Linked DNA regions of Homo sapiens: regions 1, 3 and 4 are each linked to region 2. Evidence: fine-mapped expression QTL. A gene starts in region 2. Each other region holds a variant in brackets. All regions are shown on one strand. Distances are from middle to middle.

Region 1 (5,142 bases), 71 kb before region 2:
AGGATGGAGTGCAGTGGCACAATCTCGGCTCACTGTAGCCTCCGCCTCCCCGGCTCAAGCCATCCTCCCTCCTCAGCCTCCCGAGTAGCTGGGACTACAGGCGTGTGCTACCGCGCCTGACTAATTAAAAAATTGTTTTTTGTAGAGACCTGGTCTCACTATGCCACCTAGGCTGGTCTTGGACTCCTGGGCTCAAGTGATCCTCCCGCCTCAGCCTCCCACAGTGCTGGGTCTATAGGTGTGAGGTGTGAGCCACCGTATCCGGCCTGATTTTTCTTTCTTGTAAGCTTTGGAGTCCTCTGTTCACCCTGATCCTTACCCAGGACCTCAGCGTTTGGAAGCAATGGATGTAGAATTCTGTGGTGGAGGCTGTGCTGGGGTATCCAGAGCCCAAGACCCCCTTGGAACCTGAGTCTTTGGTGGAGGTTGGACCCTCCCCGCCCCTCAGCCCCCGCTGACCAGTATCCGGAGTGACTCGGCACAGCCAGTGGGGCCAGGAGGGGACCAGTGTCCGGAGTGACTCGGCACAGCCGGTGGAGCCGGGAAGGGACCGATGTCCGGAGTGACTCGGCACAGCCAGTGGGGCCAGGAGGGGACCAGTGTCCGGAGTGACTCCGCACAGCCAATGGGGCCGGGAAGGGACGCGGCTTCTCCATTTCTCAGCACAAGCAGTTTGTCACTTGTAGCCTCGAGGACGCTGCTAAGGTCACGGAGGGTCCCCGAGCCTCGACCGGGGCTTAGTGCCCTGCAGTGTCCACGTGAGGCCACGGCAGCCGGGAGGGCCCGTGTGCACCCTCACTCGGGCGGGACGGTGGGCTCAGGAGCTCTGAGGCAGCCGTGATGTGCTGAGGGTCACACAGTGTGCACGTGGGGACCCTGATCCATGGGGGGATCAGAGCCGGGACCTGCCTGGCAAGTCCACCTCACGGAGGCCCTGGTGGGAGGAAAAGTGGGCACCGTTCACAGCTGGCGACCCCTGCTCCGCCTGCCTGGGCCTCTTTCTCTTCTCATTGGCCCTGGGGTCTGTCACGCTGGGTTCCACAGCGGTGCCTTCAGACTGAAGTTGCCAACCCCACAGCCGTGCGTGGGAGCCGGGGCTGGCTTTCTGGTGGGCTTCACCTCACGACTTTGGGGGTGTGTGGCTGTGGTGTGAATCTGCTCCTCCTGGCTTTGAAGTGTGAGGGGATGAGGCCGTGTTGCAGCCATCTGGGGCCATTGTGGGGAGGGTCAGGCATCACCAGTCATTTCACCCCACTGACAGTGCGTCTCCAGGCTGGAGAAGTGGCTGCTGTATATATTTTTCTTTTCCTTTTTTTTTCTGTTAATAGAGGTGAAGTCTTGATATGTTGCCCAAGCTGGTCTCAAACTCATGAGCTCAAGCGACCCTCCCGCCTTGGCCTCCCAGAGTGCTGGAATTATAGGCGTGAGCTGCTGCACCTGGCAGCCGTTATCAACGCTCCAGTTTTCCAGGCTTTCTGTGTGTAGGTGCTGGCAAGATGGGGCAGAGCTGAGGCCGGGACCCAGGCCCCGTGCCCCCCGAGCCGACTCATGGGAAGTGGGTGGGACCGGTGTTAAGAAGCCACTTCTAGCGCCCCCGCCCTCCCCGTGCCGTGGGCTTGAGGAAGCCCTGTACCTGGAAATGGGGGTCACCTGCCTTTTCCCACACAAAGCCCCCCTTGGGGATGCCGGCAGACACACTGCAGAGCCCCCACGTGGGGGTCCCAGTGCCCACCGGCCAGCTCGGAGGCCAGCTCCCAGCCCTGCCTCACCGACCGTCTCAGCCACAGAAGGAACATGATCCCAAAAGGGGCAGTCTTTGGGGCCGGGCCCTCCCCCGGGGGCCCCTGGCAGCCTTCAGCTGTCACCCCGCCGCGAGAGATGGACGGGTGCACGAGGCTTTAATGTCTGAGGTTCCCCGGGCAAAACACGCTTGCATTCCTCCGGCTGGGCGTAATTGCTGGGCAGTCAGTGTGAATTATAAATTATTTTTCAAAAGAAGTGCTTTTTTTATGGCTGGCAGAAATCTAAAATGGCCTGGGCTGGGTCATTGCGCCTGCCACTGCCCCGGGCATCCGGCCCGCTCTCCGCTCTCGGGGGCAGACACGCGGCACTTTCTGCTGCCGACGGGCCTGGGCTCGGCGTTTCTGAAAAGATCGTTGTCACTGAGGAAGCCCGGTTCGTTCAGGCACCCGCAGCGGGTGGAGAAGTGCCGTCTGCACCGTCTTGGTCTTGGGCCAAGTTCCTGAGGTTTTTCTGGACCTGCTGGGCTGTGGGCTTTTGCCAGAAAGAGGGGACCTTGGGGAGGGCTTTGGCAGAAGATAGGACACCCCCTGGACTCTAAAATTGGGGCTTACAGCCATT[T/G]TAGTGCTGCTCTGACCCAGAGCTGATGGAGAAACTGAGACCTGGGTATCGGGGAGGGCTGGGTTCCCACCTGCATCTCCTGCGTCTGCGTCTGCTGTGACTTGCAAGGCCTGGGGCTGTTTTCTCCCCGGATGCTGGCCTCTTGGGCTCCAAGTGCCCATCTCTCGGGGCCCCGCCCCCACCCTGCTGGTCTCTTGGTCCCCTGGACTGGGCACGCGAGGGCCACACGTTGGAGTGGCAAGGTCAGTGCCGCCAGGCCAGGATTCCAGTGGCTGCACCCAGCTGTGCCCACCAGGCCTGCAGCCATGTTCAGCTCTGTGCTCTCAGCTGCAGCTCTTCTCCTCACCGGTGCGTGCCTTGGGCGACAGAGTCCTGCCGTGCTGTGCTGATGTGCACATACTTTGGAGCAGAGTCCCCTTATGGTTTCACACCCTTTGCTGGGCCGGTGGTGCTCAGGGCTGTGGGAGCCACACTCCTCTTGGAGTGTCCTGAAGGGCGTGGGGCTGCACAGCAGAGTGCCAGAGCCCCCTCTGTCTTCTGGTCTCCAGGCACCGGGGGAGGCAGGGCCCAGGGAGCCAGGCCACCGACATTTCCGGTTCTCTCTGCGTGGTGTTGAGCCCCCTCTCCCTGCAGCAGATTCCGTCTGAAAGTGGCCCCGTGCCATTGAACATGTCCAGAGCTGCCCCAGCTGCCTGACCCTCACAGGGCCGTGGGCTTGGTGTTGGCATCATGAAAGCAACATCCAGGGGCTGGATCGTCCCGGCTCCTCTCTCTGTCCCGGGCAGCCTGGGCACGTTGCATGCTCTGAGCTGCCCTTCTCCAGTCTCACGTGAGGGTGCAGCATGATGACGTGGTGCCGTGCACACGGTAGGTGCTCTGTGGATGCCACTTCTGTTCTTCCAGAGCAGATAAGATGCTGAGTGTGTGAGTGGAGGTTCGGGATGACCTTGTTGTCTCCAGGACAGTGTGGGGCCTGGCCGTGCGAGCATCCATTCTGGAACAAGATTGTCCCGTTTCAGTTCTTGGCCTCAGCACTTAGCAGCTCGGTGGGCATAGGCAGGCCACACCGACCCTGAGCCTCTGTTTCTTCCATAGAGTGGAGATAATAGTAGGCTCAGCTGAAAGTGTGGATCTCGGGAGGTGCCTGATTGCTGGGGAGCATTCAGCATAGTGAGCCGTGCTTATCGTCATCACCTTCTGGGAGGAGGAGGAATCTTGGCAGTGGTGGGGGCTGCTGAGGACGAGGGCTGGGTCAGCAGCTGTTTGCAGGGGTGTCTGACCCCATTTCTGAGCTCAGGCACCTGACATACCCCTGCTAGTCAATGGGAAGCAGACAAGGACCAAGGTGGACATGGCACCCGTGGAGCGGTGGTGAGGAATTTGGGAGGACAGAGAAGGAGCCCAGGCCAGAGACACACGGAACAGCTGCTCATTTCAATCACTCTTCTCATGGAGAAACCGAAGACCAGAGGGGACAAGACTAGTCCAAGGGCATGGGGAGTCATGGGTAGGCTGGGGTTGGAATTGCAATGTCCTGACTTTCCCCGTCAGCACACTTTTGTGTACCCGGTAAAAACCACTACCACCATCATCATTGCCACCATCACTACCATCATCAGCACTATAATCATCACTACCACTATCGTCACCATCATCACCATCACATCGTCATCACCACTGTCACTATCCTCACCACCATCACCACCATCACCACCATCTCTATCCCCACCATCACCATCACCACCGTCACCATCACCACCACTGTCACTATCCTCACCAACATCACCACCATCACCATCACCACCATTACCATCACCACCATCACCACCATCATCGTGATCACCACTGTCACTATCCTCACCACCATCACCACCATCACCATCACCACCATCACCATCACCATCACCACTGTCACTATCCTCACCACCATCACCACCATCACCATCACCATCACCACCATCACCATCATCGTCATCACCACTGTCACTATCCTCACCACCATCACCACCATCACCATCACCACCATCACCATCACCACCATCACCATCACCACCGTCATCACCACTGTCACTATCCTCACCAACATCACCACCATCACCACCGTCACCACCATCACCACCGTCACCACCATCATCGTGATCACCACTGTCACTATCCTCACCACCATCACCACCATCACCATCACCACCATCACCATCACCATCACCACTGTCACTATCCTCACCAACATCACCACCATCACCATTAGCAGCAACATAACATTTGTTGAGAATCAGTTCTCATAATGACCCAGTGAGGCAGGGATTTTTATGGTCTCATTTCACCAAAGCCCAATGATGCAGGTGACACATTCAAACCTGTACTTGTCCACGTTGAGTGGACTGCCCACTGTGTCCTCCATGCTGAGGCTCTGGAAGGCAGGGGAGGGTGGGTGTCCTTAGGGTCCTTGTCCCCATCATGGAAGTTGGGCTCAAGCCACACCTTCGCTGGGCTCAGTCGTCTGATCTGTGAGTGGGAAGCTTGGTGCAGCTCCAGGAGTCTGTTTCTGGACACTGAGGGCGGCTTGGGAGCGAGTGGGGAGGGCCACGCTACCGGAAATGGCCTGTGCCCATGGGAAAGGTCAGCCTGGCCACCAGGGCCCAGAATAAGCAACTGTGGAAACAACCCGGCCTGAGCCCCACACAAGTCACTGCTGTGCCTCGGGGACTTGCGCGCCATTCCTCCCCCATTTCACTGGAGCTTGCATTTTTGTCATAGTTTTCCAGGGACAGGCGTTTAACA
Region 2 (5,142 bases):
CCATGGCGACGGGTCGCGGTTTTATTTTTAATAGCGGCCGGCGATTAGAGAGATGCCTGCACCGCTTTCGCCTAAGCTCTGCGTCCCCCGCGGGTGAAGCACCCACGCCCCGCCCCAGCCCCCGCCTCGCTCCAGCGCCCCTTGCACGTCCCCAGGTGGCCCTAAACTCTAGCTGGGCGCACCCGTAGCTCCAGGCCGGGCAGGGGAGCCGAGGGAAGCAGCCATCTAGGCCCTCAGAGGCGGCGAGGACCCCCAGGATCCCTCAAGCTGGGAGGGACGGGTACCCCATCCCCAATACAACGCGACCTTCCTCCTTGCCTTCCACACCGTCTTACCGAGTCCTCTAACCCCACAGAGGTGTCCTCGGGCCCCCTCTGCGCGCGAGCAGTCCGAGGCCCAGGAAGACAGGATGCGCGCCACTCCGGGATAACTGGCCGAAGAATGAGGCCGGGGTCCGGCCTGCGTCCTGGCCCTGCGAGTCCGGCTCTTTCCAGAAGCCATGCAGTGGGTGTCCCCTCCCAAGCCGCAAGTTCCCCCTGGAGGGACAAGGCCTGGCTTTAAGGGGCTCCTCCACGTTTCCAAGGCTCCCCTGGTTCTGTCCCGGTCCCGCTTGGTCCTGACCACCCAGAGGGCATGCTTGACCGCGGGGGTCGTGGTGTGGGGCTGCGGCCAACGGAAGGGAGAGACGTGGGGAGGGGGCCTGCAGGTGTGTGGAAGGGCGCGTGTAGACGCGACCCACTGGGAGCGGAGGGAGAGGCGTCGCTCCCCAAATATTTGGGGGAAGGGGAGAGCCCCCGAAGCGCTCTCCGGATTCGGCCTTTGAAATGCTAGAGCTGGCCTAGCTGGGGATGAAAGACCGCCCGCGGGGCTGCGCCTTAACGGCCTTTGTCTGGAGGGAGGGCGACCGCGACGGGGGCAGGGGTTTAATCGACAGGGTTGGGGGTGACGGCTGGGCCGGGCGGGATTCTCCGCTGCTCACCCAAGGAAGCGTCTCCTGGGCTCCAGGGGCCTAGGCCGTCTAGCCTCGGGGTCTGCACAGCACGCCACCCCGCTGGACCCGGTACCAGGACGCGTAGACCCCCTGGCAGGGCACTGACGAGCACCTGGACCTGTAGTCAGGGTCCAATCCCTCCTGGTCTAGGGAGGCGAAATCCATCCAGCCCAGGCGCACCCGCCCTTTCTCGGCGTGGGAGCCGTCTAGCCACGCTCAGACCTCGGCCTCCGCGCGCGTTCCTCCCCCGCATCGCGCTCTGAGCTGCGCCTCGGCCGGAGGTGGCGCTCTGTGCGCCCCACGGATCCCGACGCGGGAGGCTCAGAACCCGGGGGACCCTCACCGGTGGCTCCTTTCCCTTCCATCCCCTCGACTTCCCGGCTCAGGGCGCGGCCCTGCCTTCGGCGCGGGAGTGGGGGACTGGGGGGCGCGGGGTCCCAGGGTGGGGACGAGGCGGGCTGCAGGCCCTTTCCCCGACTGGAGCTCGCTCCCAAGTGGAAATGTGGGTGGAGGGTCCTCATTCAGATGCCCCAGGCCTCGGATCCTGGGCGGGGGCGCGTGGCAGCCGCCAGGTGAGTGCCCCAAACCCGCCCCCCTCCTTCCCCAAAGACTGACTCCCCCTCCTTTTATGGAGAGAGGAAGGCTGGGGCCCTGGATCCGAACCGTGGAGAGCGGCCGGAGCGCCGGGGCGGGGGCGGGGACCGGCTCTCTGGCCCTTTTTGGCGCAGCAGCTCTGGGCGCTGCCCGCTGCCGCCGCTGGGGCCCGAGAGAGGCGAGCCGGCGACGGCGGCGCTTCTGCGGCGGCCTCCTCCCTCCCCACCCGGTGCCGCAGGATTGCAGCTGGCACTGGAGGGTGGGCAAGCTCGAGGGAGGGGCGCGGAGCCCCGGCGCGGAGCCGGGCGCGGGGCTTTGATGGATTTAGCTGCTTGCGCGAGCGCGTGTGTGCTCCCTGCCGCGGCGGCGGCGCCCGGGCCCTGCCGGGTCCGCACGAACCCCGAGCGCTTCCGAGGTGCGGGTCCCAGGCCCGGAATCCGGGGGAGGCGGGGGGGGGGGGCGGGGGCGGGGGCGGGGGAGGGGCGCGGCGGCGGCGCTATAACCCTCTCCCCGCCGCCGGCCGGCTCCACACGCGCGCCCTGCGGAGCCCGCCCAACTCCGGCGAGCCGGGCCTGCGCCTACTCCTCCTCCTCCTCTCCCGGCGGCGGCTGCGGCGGAGGCGCCGACTCGGCCTTGCGCCCGCCCTCAGGCCCGCGCGGGCGGCGCAGCGAGGCCCCGGGCGGCGGGTGGTGGCTGCCAGGCGGCTCGGCCGCGGGCGCTGCCCGGCCCCGGCGAGCGGAGGGCGGAGCGCGGCGCCGGAGCCGAGGGCGCGCCGCGGAGGGGGTGCTGGGCCGCGCTGTGCCCGGCCGGGCGGCGGCTGCAAGAGGAGGCCGGAGGCGAGCGCGGGGCCGGCGGTGGGCGCGCAGGGCGGCTCGCAGCTCGCAGCCGGGGCCGGGCCAGGCGTCCAGGCAGGTGATCGGTGTGGCGGCGGCGGCGGCGGCGGCCCCAGACTCCCTCCGGAGTTCTTCTTGGGGCTGATGTCCGCAAATATGCAGAATTACCGGCCGGGTCGCTCCTGAAGCCAGCGCGGGGAGCGAGCGCGGCGGCGGCCAGCACCGGGAACGCACCGAGGAAGAAGCCCAGCCCCCGCCCTCCGCCCCTTCCGTCCCCACCCCCTACCCGGCGGCCCAGGAGGCTCCCCGCGCTGCGGGCGCGCACTCCCTGTTTCTCCTCCTCCTGGCTGGCGCTGCCTGCCTCTCCGCACTCACTGCTCGCGCCGGGCGCGCTCCGCCAGCTCCGTGCTCCCCGCGCCACCCTCCTCCGGGCCGCGCTCCCTAAGGGATGGTACTGAATTTCGCCGCCACAGGAGACCGGCTGGAGCGCCCGCCCCGCGGCCTCGCCTCTCCTCCGAGCAGCCAGCGCCTCGGGACGCGATGAGGACCTTGGCTTGCCTGCTGCTCCTCGGCTGCGGATACCTCGCCCATGTTCTGGCCGAGGTTGGTGCCGCCCCCGCGCCCCGTCCCTGCGCCGGCTCCTCCGGCGCACACCCCCCGCCGGCTGGGGCGCCACGGGCTCTGCAGAGAGCGTTTTGGTTCCTGCCAGGGTGGTCGATGTTTAGATTTTCCCAACTGGGTTCTATTTTCTGCCATGCCTAAGTGTGTGTGGGGAGTTTCCAGCGTGTTGCGTCGGTCGCTCTGCCTCGGGGGGACCGGGGAGCAGCGAGGTGGACGAGTGGGCAGAAACTTCGGGGGGCGCAGTGTCCTCTCCGGGGAAGGGGAGCTGGGGCGCAGCGGGCGCTGCAGCAGCGGGGTGCGGGGAGCGGGGAAGGGGGTGTGTGTGAGCCGGCGGAGCCTGGGGAGGAGAGAAGGGCGGCGGATAAATAGGTAGGGGCGGCTGCTGCGGAAGCCCCTGGCCGGGCAGGGTGGGCAGCGCCAAGCTGCAGCCCTCGGTTCCCAGTCCCCAAGCCCGGCGGGGCTCAGGGCCGGCGCAGTCCCGCCCGCCCGGGCCTGCTTACAGGTGGCTGAGCGAGGCGAGCTGGGGCTGGGCCAGGCGTCCGCACCCTCCCACCGCGGCGTCCCCGCCCCCCCATCCCCATCCCCATCCCCATCCCCGGGAGCTTTGCTGTGATGAATGACTTTCCACAGCCCCCGTCGTGGGAACTTAGTGCTTCAGGCTCCCCAGCGACCCCCGACTCTCCTTAAAAATCGGGGAGGGGAGTGGGGGAGGCCAGAGGTGAGGGTGGTCTCCGCAGGGCACGGAGAGCTGCGCGAGGTGGAAGTTTAACCCTCGCTTTCCCTGGAGGCTTCTTCTCCCGGCCGCCGGCTGGATTTGGGCGTCTTAGTCGGCGCTAGGGCCGCGGCTGGGCCGGAGCCCGGGGTGGGGCGAGTGTGTGAGTGAGATGTGTGTGCGCGTGTGTGTGTCTGCGCGCGCGTGCGTGTGTTTGTGAGACGGAGAGACCTCTCCACGGGTTCGGCCCGGGATTCCGGGGCGTGAAATTTAAGCCCTGCCTGGATTAAAGTGTTAGGGCTGCCGTGACTCTCGCCGACCCGTGACGCATTTTAACTTGATCTTTCTAGATGTTGATCTCACTATTAAATCAGAAACTTTCGGCCCCCTCGCTGCCCCCTAGACCTTCTGTAACTGACACCCCGGGTGGAGGGGCCGGAGTGCGGGGGCTTTTGTCTGAAAATATAAAGGGGGGGGGGCTTTGATTTTGCAAAGGGCGGAACATGGATGCGGGTGGAGAATTTGGGGTCTCTTCCAGCCCCACCCCCGGCTTCTGGTTCCAGGGCCGGGGCGAGGGCTCCGCGGGGGCTGGGGCGGGGACTGCGGCCGGCGCTCGCGGGGTCTCCTCGGGCCCGGGGCGGCGGCGCTCCTGGCGGCCGGGGGCGCGTGCCGGCGGGGTCGGGGCCGCGGGCGCTGACCGTGTGGCCTCTGCTTGCAGGAAGCCGAGATCCCCCGCGAGGTGATCGAGAGGCTGGCCCGCAGTCAGATCCACAGCATCCGGGACCTCCAGCGACTCCTGGAGATAGACTCCGTAGGTAAATCGCGCCCCTTCCCTCCGCGCGCGGGGAGGGCGCGGGCGGGCGGCCTGTGCGCCCCGAGCTGGGGCCGGGCGGGGCGCCGCGCAGGAGCGCACCGAAAGGTCAGAATCCAATCCCCAGCCATAAGCGCCCGGGCGGATGAGTCAGGAGTTTCTCTTCCAGTCTCCACTTTCTCTCCCAGCGGCGGCCGAGGGCTGCTCGCTCGCCCCGGGATTGTTTTCGCCTTTAAGGAAAACGCCGCGTGTGTCACACAAAGTTCAGCCGCGGCCTCCGCCAGGTGTGCGGGCCCCGCGCCTGCCCTCGGGCCGGGGGAGCGGCAGGATCCGGCCCAGACCCTGGGCGCAGAGCCCTGGCCCGTGCGCCGGGCGGGCAGCCCGCGGAGCGAGGCCCCAAGGGCAGGCGCGGCTCCCGGTCCGACGGGCGGGCGGGCGGAGGCGGCCCCCGGGTCAGGGCCCGGCCCCCTCTGTAATCCCTGCGAGCTGGTGCCGCGTTCTTGCCGCAGGGCTGGGCCTCTGTGGCTGCAGAAGCCGGTGTCTTTCTGTTTTCACGACCCAATGAAAAGCCTTGGACGCA
Region 3 (5,142 bases), 36 kb after region 2:
AGCTGGCACTGAGGGGCCCTCGCAGTGGGATGCCCTGCCAGGCTTCTGGGGCCATGTCCCTCCTGTGGCTGTCCAAGCCCCACAGATGGCGATGCAGTGTGTACGTCCTGCAGCTCCTCGTGGCCTGGCGAGTCACAGCCTGTCCTGTGTTGATTTTGCTGCTCAGCAAGGGATGTGGGCAGATAGTGTCACAGTTATTTATCAGGAGGCAGAGAACCCCTGGCAGAAGTGGGTCTTGGGGAGGCTAGACTCACTAGAGCCCCAGCCTGGGAGCTGTGGCTTGCTGGCCTGCAACCGTGGACCCCAGCCCCTGGGGGCCCTGGAAGCCTGTTTCTCCATGATCAAGGGCCGTTTTTTGCGAGTGTTTGCAAGGGAGGAAGGGCTTCCTGCAGGATCTTCCCGTGTGATGTCTCTATGGGCTTTCTCCTGGGACAGGGACCCATCAAAGGTGGGAAGGGAGGGTGGTGCTGTCCGGGGAGGTAGGTGAGGGGACCACAGTCTGAGGTCCAAACTGCAAAGGGTTCACCCCGTAGCCTCCTCCCTCCTTCATTCCCTCCTTTCTTTTGTTCTCTCCCTCCTCACCTCTCCATTCGTTTTTTTGGAGCTACTGGGGCTGGAGCCGCCTCCTGGGATTGTGGCAGCCTTGGAAGATGGGTCCTCCAGTGAGAGCCTCGGGGCTGGGAGGAGAGGCCCAGGGTGCCGCAGTCCCAGTCCCAGGGTCATGGGGGGCCCTCGAGCGCGGGGGACCCTGGGGCCTCTGTGCAAGGGATGGCTCTGGGGCCCTGTGCTGATGGAGGACTCTGTGTTTACCTAATGAGGGGGTGCATGGGGGTTGGCAAACAGCCCTTGACTGCTGGCGGAGGCTGTCGGCTTGGGTGGCTTCCAGAGGCCCCTCAGCCCTGCATACCTTCCTCCCGGGCTCCAGTCCCGCCTCCCCCACCTTCTCGAACACAGACCTGCAGCGACCCTGAACAAAAGGAAATCCCTAAAGCTAATGTCCATGGGGGCTGGTGGGAAGTGAGCAAGAGTGGGGGTGGGGTCAGGGCCCTCGGAAGCAGGGGTCATGCGGGAGTGGGAGTGTCCCCCTGCCTGCCCCAAGCCCAAGGGGAAATACCTGAGTGAGCCCTGGCCCGTAGGAGGCGTGTGAGGAATGTTCCAAAAATCCTAGGCTGAGTGAATGAGGCCCTCACCCAGGCAGGGTCTAGGGCCAGGGACAGAAAGGCTTGTCTGAGGACACACTGGGAGCCAGCCCGTCTTTGGGTGACCCCAGACGTCACCCCAACCTGGATTTCCAAACCAGGTCCCCCAAGGCTCTGGCCCTGAGCAGGTGGAGGAGGGGAGGGGCAGGCAGACACAGTGTCGGCTTGGGGGAACGGGGTTGGGGGTACGGCAGAGGGACGGTCCCACATCTAGAGGCCAAATTCAGGACAGCCTAAAAAACACCCTCCGGAAAAGGCAGCCCAAATCATCTCATGTGCTTCTGAAATTCTTGCATTTTCCCCCTCAAAATCTGTCCTAGTTATGCTTGAGATCTCCTGACCCCAGAATACTTTTATTTATGACAGAAAATTCATCTCCATGGCAACGCCTTAGGAAGCTGCAGCCTCAAGATTATAACTTCCCAAGCAATGAAGACAATAAATGGATTTTTCACAAAACGGCTAAGAGCGACTCTGGCAAGAACCGGCCCCTCTCTGCAGTCTGGGGAGGGGGGGTTGGAGTTGAGAGGGGTGAGGGGACAGAAGGAGTCCCTAGGGCTGAAGTAAAGCCCACCAATGTGGTGGGTCTGAGGGAGGAAGCTTCACATTGTCTGTGTTCCGGCTTTTAAAGAGCAGCGCACTTAACCCCTTCGTCAAATCAAACATGACCCTGGGTTGCCCTAGAGGCCCTGAGCGAGCATCACCACATCAGGCCTGGCAGGCGCCTGCACACTGCAGTGTCTGAGCCCCTCAGCCACCTCCAAAGCACACATTTGTGCCTTGTCTTCACTGTCTGAGAAACAGGCATGGAGGATGAAGGAGGTCTCCTTGTCCCAGGGAACCACAGGAGCCTCTCTCTGGCAGCCTTTAGGGATCCAAGGCTGGAAACCCCTTTGCAAATAGCTTGGAGCAGCTTTCCAGGCTCAGCCCAAATTCCACAGTGAGGGGGCAAGTACTGGCCAGTTCCAGCAGAGATACTTCCTCAAATCAGATGGTGCGCATTGCAGGGGCCTCAGTTGGACATCAAGGTGGAGCCATCCCCCTGGTCCTAGTTCCTGTCATCCATCCATCCACTCATCCATCCATCCATCCATCCATCCATCCATCCATCCACTCATCCATCCATCCATCCATCCATCCATCCATCCATTTTTTAACCCATACCCGCGTATTTCACCGCCAGTCTTCCCATCCCACCCATGTTGTGCAGCCCCTTTGTCCATGATACCGAGGCTGTCCCTTTATCCCCGCCCGCCCAATATCCCACGGGTGGGGGGGCCAAGGACTGGCCCAGGTCCCCGCCAAAGTTCTTCCTCAAAATCAGGATGGACCCATTGGCAGGGGCCTCAGTTGGATATCAAGGTGGAGCCATCCCCCTGGTACTAGATCCTCTCATCCACCCATCCACTTATCCATCTATCTATCTCTCTATCTATCCATCCATCCAACTATCCGTCCATCCATCCATCCAGTCATGTGTCCAACCATCCATCCATCTTCTATCCATCCATCGAACTATCCACCCATTCATCACTTACCCATCCATTCACTCACACATCCATCCATCCATCCATCCATCCATCCATC[A/CATCCATCA]TCTATCAGTCCAACCAACCATCTATCATCCATCCAAGTATCCACCCACCCACCCATCCACCCATCTGTCCAACCATCTATCATTCATTCAACTATCCACTGATCTACCCATCCATCCATCCATCCCTCCATCCAGTCAGTCATGTGTTCAACCATCCATCCATCTATCATCTATCCATCCATCAAACTATCCACCCATTCATTCACTTACCCATCCATCCATTCACACATCCATCCATCCATCCATCCATCCATCCTTCCATCCATCAATCCATCCAACCATCTATCATCCATCCAACTATCAACACACCTACCCATCCACCCAACTGTTCCAACCATCAATCATTCATCCAACTATCTACTGATCCATCCATCCATCCACCTATTTATCTGTCCATCCAATTATCCACTCACTCACCTACACATCCATCTACCCATCATCTACTTACCCTTTCACCCTTCCATCCACTCATCCATTCATTCATCTATCTAACAATCTATCATCCATCCAACTATCCACCCACTTGCCTACCCATTCACCCATCCGTTTATCCAACCATCAATCTGTTCAGCCGTCTATTATTCATACAACTATCCACCAATCCACCTATCCATCCATCCATCCACCCATTCATCCATCTATCCATCCATCTATCCATCCAACTGTCCTCCATCCAACCATCCATCCATCCATCCATCCATCCATCCATCCATCCATACAACATAAGTTCTTGAGCACCTAACAGGGACCTGTCACTCTGCCAGACACCATGAATTTCTTGCCTTCCTGGAGCTAACCATTAAGAGGGAAATTTAGACATTAATCATACACAAAAAGGAACATAATCGTAGACTGAAGTAAGTGCCTGAAGGAAATGACAGCAGTGACTAGTGCTGCTTGGGGGCAGATGGGGTGTTAGATGCTTTAGGTTTTAATTCTCACAACCACCCATGGGTAGGTGCTGCCAGAGACCTATGCTTCAAAAATGGAGAAGTTGAGGCACAGGCTCAGGAAGGATCTTACACCAAATCTTGTAAGTGGAGGAGTCAGAATGTGAACTTGGCCCTTCTGAGTTTTTAATCTCTAGGCTATTCTGCCTCTCAGGTGGGTGGGGAGGGTCCATAAGGGCCCCTGATCTGGTCTAGTGGGATCTCTGGAGACTCCCCACAGTGTTATTGAACCCAAGGACCAGCAAGGGATGCAGGTGAAGCACAGAGAAGGTGGCACGCAGGAGGACCACCGCATGGGTTGTGCTCATTCAAGGCAGGAGGGCACTAAGAAGCAGGACCAGCCCCAGCGGTGGGGAGGGGAGGGTGGGGAGGGGAGGAGGTTGGGGAGGGGAGGAGGGTGGGGACAGGAGGAGGGCGGGAAGGGAGGGAGGAGGGTGGGGAGGGGAGGAGTGTGGGGACGGGAGGAGGGCTGCCCACCGTCCTGGCCCCCCAGAGGCACCAAGCCCTGCAGATGAGCTGCGCATGAGAAGGAGAGAGAGATTTATTAAGAGCGGTTCGCCGTCAGTATCCAAACCTTCACAAGTTAGACAGAGTCGGTCTTCACTGGAGGGGGCATTCCTGGGCCCAGCTGCTCTTCAGAGCCTGCTGGAAGCAATTAATTAGCGGGACCAGGTACCTGTGTCCTGCCGGGCTGGCCCCACCTCGGCCTTCCTCTGGAGCTCCTGCAGCCCCAGGGAACCTGTCCCCAGCTCACGGATCTGAGATCTGCAGGGGCTCACACTTAAACTGTGGTGCCCTCTGACCTGGCCTGATTTCCATGGGAGCCCATGGCCTGAGGGGAGAGGAAGGACAGTGCCAGGCTTCGGAGAGGGGCTGTTTTCTTTTCAGGCTCCCTGGAGCCCTGGCCAGCTGCCTCCCCTCCCAGGTTCCACCTGGACTCCTCCCTGCCCTCCGCAGGGCCCTGCCTGGCCCTCTTTTCCTATCAATCAGAAAACAGCGACCTGGCCTGCACCTGACACTTCCTCCATCTCCCCTGGGCCTGGCCTCGGGCTCCTCAGCAGCCCTGGATTTGGCCTGGAGCCAGGGGTCTGGGCAGAGGAGAGTGCTTGCTCGGGACGAGGAGAGGCAGTTCAGGGCCTGGAGGGGACTGGGTGAGCTCAGCCTGGGGCTTCTCCGGGAGGCTGGCAGCTAGAGAGTCCTGTCTCCAGGGGCAGACATGCACACAGGGAGAGATAAGCTTGCGGTCAGCAGCCATGCGAGCCCCGGGAGTGCCTCCTGTCCTCACCAGGGTGGTGGTGGGGGCACCAGAGGTCCCAGCCCCCATGCTGCCCCACCCTGATCCTCGGCCTGCGCTCGCTCCTTGCCCTGCCTGCCTGAGCTGCCCCTGCCTTGGCTCCCAGGGGCT
Region 4 (5,142 bases), 22 kb after region 2:
AGTCTTGAGGTATCATCAGTGTCCGCCTTCTGTCTGGCTAGTGGCATCCATCTGCAGTTGCCTCATGGCCCAAGGTGGCTGCTAAAGCTCCAGAAACCACATCTGTGCTCCAGGCTGGAAGAAGGAGTGAGCGGGGGGGGGGGGGAAGGGCAAAATAACACCCTTAGAGAGCTATCCTGGAAATCCCACCCAGTGACTTTTGTGTTTTTCTCAGCTGCCATCCCTCCACTGCAAGGGAGCTTGGGAAATGTCTCCTAGCAAGACATGTCGCTTCCCAGATGGAGGTGGGACCTGGGCAGCCGCCATCATCACGGAGGAGGCAGTTTCAAGCCTTCCTGGTCCTTGGCATTGGCCCGTCTGGCTTGGGAAAGTTGGAGCCCTGTCTGGCCTGGTTCCCCCTCCTGGCACGTGGGACTCCATGGTGGCCAAAACAAATAGTTTCTTTAGAAGAGAGGAGGATCTCAGAGATAGGGTGTCTGAGAACCCTGGCTCCTGTTTGCAATGTGGGACTTGGGCCTGCGGGTGAGGTCCATTCATGAGGAGCCTCTTGGGAGGAAATTGTCCACTTGGGCGGGTCTTTGAAGCAGTCCAGGACTGTTGGTCAGCCTTGGCTTTGTTTGCTGAAAGTGTGGCCTGGTGGGTGGTTTTGTGCCTGCCTGTGGGTCCCATTTCTACAGAGCGTTAGGCTCTGGCCTCCATGGGCCTGCTGGTGACAGACCCCATGGTGAGAGGCTGGCACTCCTGTTGTCCCATGCCTGGCTGGTACTCATGTTCAGCCTATAGGCAGCCCACGTGTTGGAGTGTGCGATGGAGAGGCCACATGGGATGTGGAAGAATTGTTCTTAAACGATCAGCATAGGTCTGCCTGGGTGCAGACTCTTCTGTCTGGCTGGTGGCCTCCATCCTCAGGGTTGTCTCATGGCCCAAGGTGGCTGCCAGAGCTCCAGAAATCACATCTAAGCCCTAGGCTGGAAGAAAGGAAGGCAGAGAGAAGGGCAAATGAGCCATTCTTGGCCTCAGTTTCCCCCATCTGTACAATGGGAGAATGGGGCTTGGTCTCTAGACATGTTCTGTGAGATGCTGTGAGCCTAATCCCAATTCCTGTCAGGGTACTGCAACATGGCCAATGTGGCAAATGTGATTCTGGAAATTTCTTGAAAACTTGAAATCCCTGTGTGCCCCTGATTGGGTTAAATGTTTTCACCCTGTTTTCCTCCTATGCAGCCATGTGTGTGCTGGGTGGTTCACTTGGTCGGTGGTCTCAGTGTCTGTCTTTCCCTTCTCCCTGCAGATGTGAGGTGAGGATGAGCCGCAGCCCTTTCCTGGGACATGGATGTACATGGCGTGTTACATTCCTGAACCTACTATGTACGGTGCTTTATTGCCAGTGTGCGGTCTTTGTTCTCCTCCGTGAAAAACTGTGTCCGAGAACACTCGGGAGAACAAAGAGACAGTGCACATTTGTTTAATGTGACATCAAAGCAAGTATTGTAGCACTCGGTGAAGCAGTAAGAAGCTTCCTTGTCAAAAAGAGAGAGAGAGAAAGAGAGAGAGAAAACAAAACCACAAATGACAAAAACAAAACGGACTCACAAAAATATCTAAACTCGATGAGATGGAGGGTCGCCCCGTGGGATGGAAGTGCAGAGGTCTCAGCAGACTGGATTTCTGTCCGGGTGGTCACAGGTGCTTTTTTGCCGAGGATGCAGAGCCTGCTTTGGGAACGACTCCAGAGGGGTGCTGGTGGGCTCTGCAGGGGCCCGCAGGAAGCAGGAATGTCTTGGAAACCGCCACGCGAACTTTAGAAACCACACCTCCTCGCTGTAGTATTTAAGCCCATACAGAAACCTTCCTGAGAGCCTTAAGTGGTTTTTTTTTTTGTTTTTGTTTTGTTTTTTTTTTTTTTGTTTTTTTTTTTTTTTTTTTACACCATAAAGTGATTATTAAGCTTTCCTTTTTACTCTTTGGCTAGCTTTTTTTTTTTTTTTTTTTTTTTAATTATCTCTTGGATGACATTTACACCGATAACACACAGGCTGCTGTAACTGTCAGGACAGTGCGACGGTATTTTTCCTAGCAAGATGCAAACTAATGAGATGTATTAAAATAAACATGGTATACCTACCTATGCATCATTTCCTAAATGTTTCTGGCTTTGTGTTTCTCCCTTACCCTGCTTTATTTGTTAATTTAAGCCATTTTGAAAGAACTATGCGTCAACCAATCGTACGCCGTCCCTGCGGCACCTGCCCCAGAGCCCGTTTGTGGCTGAGTGACAACTTGTTCCCCGCAGTGCACACCTAGAATGCTGTGTTCCCACGCGGCACGTGAGATGCATTGCCGCTTCTGTCTGTGTTGTTGGTGTGCCCTGGTGCCGTGGTGGCGGTCACTCCCTCTGCTGCCAGTGTTTGGACAGAACCCAAATTCTTTATTTTTGGTAAGATATTGTGCTTTACCTGTATTAACAGAAATGTGTGTGTGTGGTTTGTTTTTTTGTAAAGGTGAAGTTTGTATGTTTAC[C/T]TAATATTACCTGTTTTGTATACCTGAGAGCCTGCTATGTTCTTTTTTTGTTGATCCAAAATTAAAAAAAAAAATACCACCAACAAAACCCGTGGACGTGAGAAGCGTTTTGTGGTACGTTTTTCTAGCACTGAGTCTAGACCCTGGTTGCCAGGTCATGCGGTGCTGTGTTGGGTGGAAACGGAGGTCAGAGCTTTCTGGGTGGGGTCCCTGGACCTGCCTCCATGGTGGCACCCGTGGGATGCCTGCCTACCTCGGACTTCAGCACCTATGGGGGTTAGGCCGAGGACATCCTCCTGCAGGCTCCACTCCCTGGAGCGGATGAGGAGTGTCAGAGTAGCCAGAAGACCATGAAGAGTTTCATCCAAGAAGGGAGCCCACCTGTCTTGGTGTGTCCATGTGCAGCACTCACCATACCCTGCCCGGGCTGGCCCCTCCACCACCTCCAGGCCCACGAGACAAACCATCGAGGTTGCTTTCAATCTTGACCCCGCGTTCTTCGAGGACCATCTGTGGACTGGCGGCCGGCTGGCGTCTGTTGTCCATGTGCTGCTGGAAGGTTCTTACGAAGGATTATCTTCAACAGCTCATCTTCATGGTGCTGTTTTCAGCCTCGTCAGGGCAGCCTGGAGGCTGGAGGGGAAGTGCAGGGCCAGGTGGTTGCAAGCTGGTTCCTGTTCCTTGGACACCTGCTGGGGCCCTGCCTGGGCCTGTGGGCTGCTGTCCAGATCTGCACCGGTTACAGCGCCTTGCCCAGGAATGTGCATTGGATGTGACGTGTGGCAATGTAACATGTATTTGTTTCCATGAGATGCTGGCGACAATGCTCCATTTTTCTTTTTTGTATAAAGTCGTCTGGTGTAATACCGTGTCCATTAAAGTGATGGGGCAGAAAAGCCAGGTGGGGAAGAGAGAATTCCATAAGAATTCCATAGGTCTGGAGCCCAGGGGTGGCTGAGGTAGCAGTAGAGGTGGGAACTCAGGCCTGCTTTCTCTCCCTACTTACTCCTTCCCTCCCTCACTCCCTCCTTTTCTCCCTCATTGGTTCATCCATGCAGGCGAGGGCCCTAGTGCCAGCCCCTCCTGTCCCGACATGGGGAGAGCCCTGGGGAGGGGCAGGCAGAGTGGAGGCCACTCCAGCCAGGAAGGGCTGCAGTGTGGCGGGGGCTGTGGTCTGAGGCTGGATCCTTTCCGAGCCTCTCCACCCACGTGGGCCTGCAGCCTTTGTCGCGGCTCTGCCCTGCGTTCCCGGGATTTCTGCTCCTGCCTGGGCCCCCTCCCGGCCCCTAGCCCTGGGCTGCACCTGGATCTGGGCTCAGGAAGGTGACTTTCTGCCCAGGGTCAGCTCTTCATGTCTTGTGAGCCCTGTGACCTTGACCGAGGGGCCTCCATCTGCATGTCGGCGTGCACATCTGTGAAACGGAGCTGCAGCTCAGGCAGGGTAAGGACGCCTCGCCATTGACTCACCTGGTGCAGGTCTTGTCTGCTGCCTCCTCCTGCTGGGACTTCACTCCAGCCTCTAGTGTTTCTAGGCCCCAGCATGGCAGAGGACAGAGCCCTTGGGCTCAGGGATTGCTGAGCGGCGATGGTGCCGCCTGTTAAAACGAGGTTCCTGCACCTGCCTGGACACCTGAATGCACCTGCTCACACCGTGCCCTTGCCAGGGGTCATGAGAGCTGGGGCCCAGCCTTTGCTGGGCTTCTCCTTTAGCTTGGGGGTGTTTCCTTTTCTTCACCCAGGCCTCTGTGTCCTGGCTGTGGAGGGGGTTGGAACTGGCTGGGAGAGTCAGTGACGGCAGGTGGTCTCCAGCCGTGGGTCCCTACAGCTGTCTTGGGATTCCCAGCGGTAGGTGAAGCCGAGGCCTGGGTCTTTGCCTGGGTCCAGTGCGCAGAGCAGTTGCTGGGCTGGGCCAGGCTCGGGGATCCCGTTCTGCAGAGAAGCCCTTCTGGTTTGTGCCCTCTTGTCAAGCACAAGAAGCCACGGCCCTCCTGGGACCTCCTTGGTTTTTTTGGGCTTTTCATACTTAGCCATGGGTTCCTCCAAGAATTCTAGGGGTGGGAACTTGAGGGCTTGGCTCCCATTTTAAAGATGAGTGAGCTGTGCCCCTGGCAGGCCCGGAACGCCTAGGGGGCCCCAAGTAGAAGGGTCGCAGGACACAGAGAGGCAGGACTTGTGCTGTGGCCGGGCATCCAGGGGCCCTTCCATCTCCTGGGCCTTGACTCTGCCCCACCCCAGGGGTGGGCTGGGCCCCAGACTCCGGAGCAGCATTGGGGCGGGAGCTCCCCAAGTGCCTGCAAACAGCAGGGCCAGCCAGGCTCTTCTGGGGTTGTGTCCTGGGCAGGTGCCCAGCCTGGGACTGAAGCTCCTTGCCCTGCACCTATCACCAAAGGGCCAAGATTCACAGAGATTTGCCTCTGCATGCTCCCTGGAAATGGGGTCAGCAAGGACCAAGATACAGACCCCAGGGAAGATGGCGACCTCCAGGTCCAAAAGGAAGAGCAGGTATTTGAACTCAAGTAGCAAAAATCACAGAATTTCCTGCACCCCACAGACCCCCGTTCCCTCACAGAAGCCCCCCATCCTCTCACAGAACCCTGGTCCCCTCGTAGATCCCCTGTCCCC

Alleles and levels. Positions count from the first base shown, and alleles are read on the strand shown. Sizes are in standard deviations (SD) of each study's normalised expression. Not every link is listed here.
As copies of G replace T in region 1, the expression in T cells of the gene that starts at base 2,114 in region 2 goes up (large effect, 1.0 SD a copy in GENCORD).

Evidence for each region.
Region 1: its variant is fine-mapped to the expression of PDGFA in T cells (GENCORD, PIP 0.95).
Region 3: its variant is fine-mapped to the expression of PDGFA in whole blood (INTERVAL, PIP above 0.99).
Region 4: its variant is fine-mapped to the expression of PDGFA in whole blood (INTERVAL, PIP 0.97).

The regions. Positions count from the first base shown.
Region 1 is chr7:587,869-593,010 of GRCh38, reverse strand. The region is part of intron 7 of PRKAR1B (protein kinase cAMP-dependent type I regulatory subunit beta); the gene reads left to right. Among named protein-coding and RNA genes, the nearest start is that of PRKAR1B-AS1, 12 kb to the left of the region's middle. RefSeq lists a silencer at 1,856-2,002. The variant T/G (reference allele first, on the strand shown) is at 2,362.
Region 2 is chr7:516,818-521,959 of GRCh38, reverse strand. It overlaps PDGFA (platelet derived growth factor subunit A), which reads left to right and starts at 2,114. Exons shown (of 6, transcript NM_033023.5): 1 at 2,114-3,021; 2 at 4,470-4,566. The coding sequence starts at 2,959. It overlaps PDGFA-DT (PDGFA divergent transcript), which reads right to left and starts at 1,569. Exons shown (of 3, transcript NR_033963.1): 1 at 1-1,569. RefSeq lists enhancers at 1-556, 2,401-3,322, 4,245-5,142 and silencers at 1,645-1,984, 2,085-2,174, 2,455-2,594, 3,055-3,144, 4,988-5,087.
Region 3 is chr7:480,623-485,764 of GRCh38, reverse strand. No RefSeq gene overlaps it. Among named protein-coding and RNA genes, the nearest start is that of PDGFA, 37 kb to the left of the region's middle. The variant A/CATCCATCA (reference allele first, on the strand shown) is at 2,787.
Region 4 is chr7:494,724-499,865 of GRCh38, reverse strand. It overlaps PDGFA (platelet derived growth factor subunit A), which reads left to right. Exons shown (of 6, transcript NM_033023.5): 6 at 1,292-2,608. The coding sequence ends at 1,302. Among named protein-coding and RNA genes, the nearest start is that of PDGFA, 23 kb to the left of the region's middle. RefSeq lists enhancers at 2,577-3,497, 3,498-4,419. The variant C/T (reference allele first, on the strand shown) is at 2,521.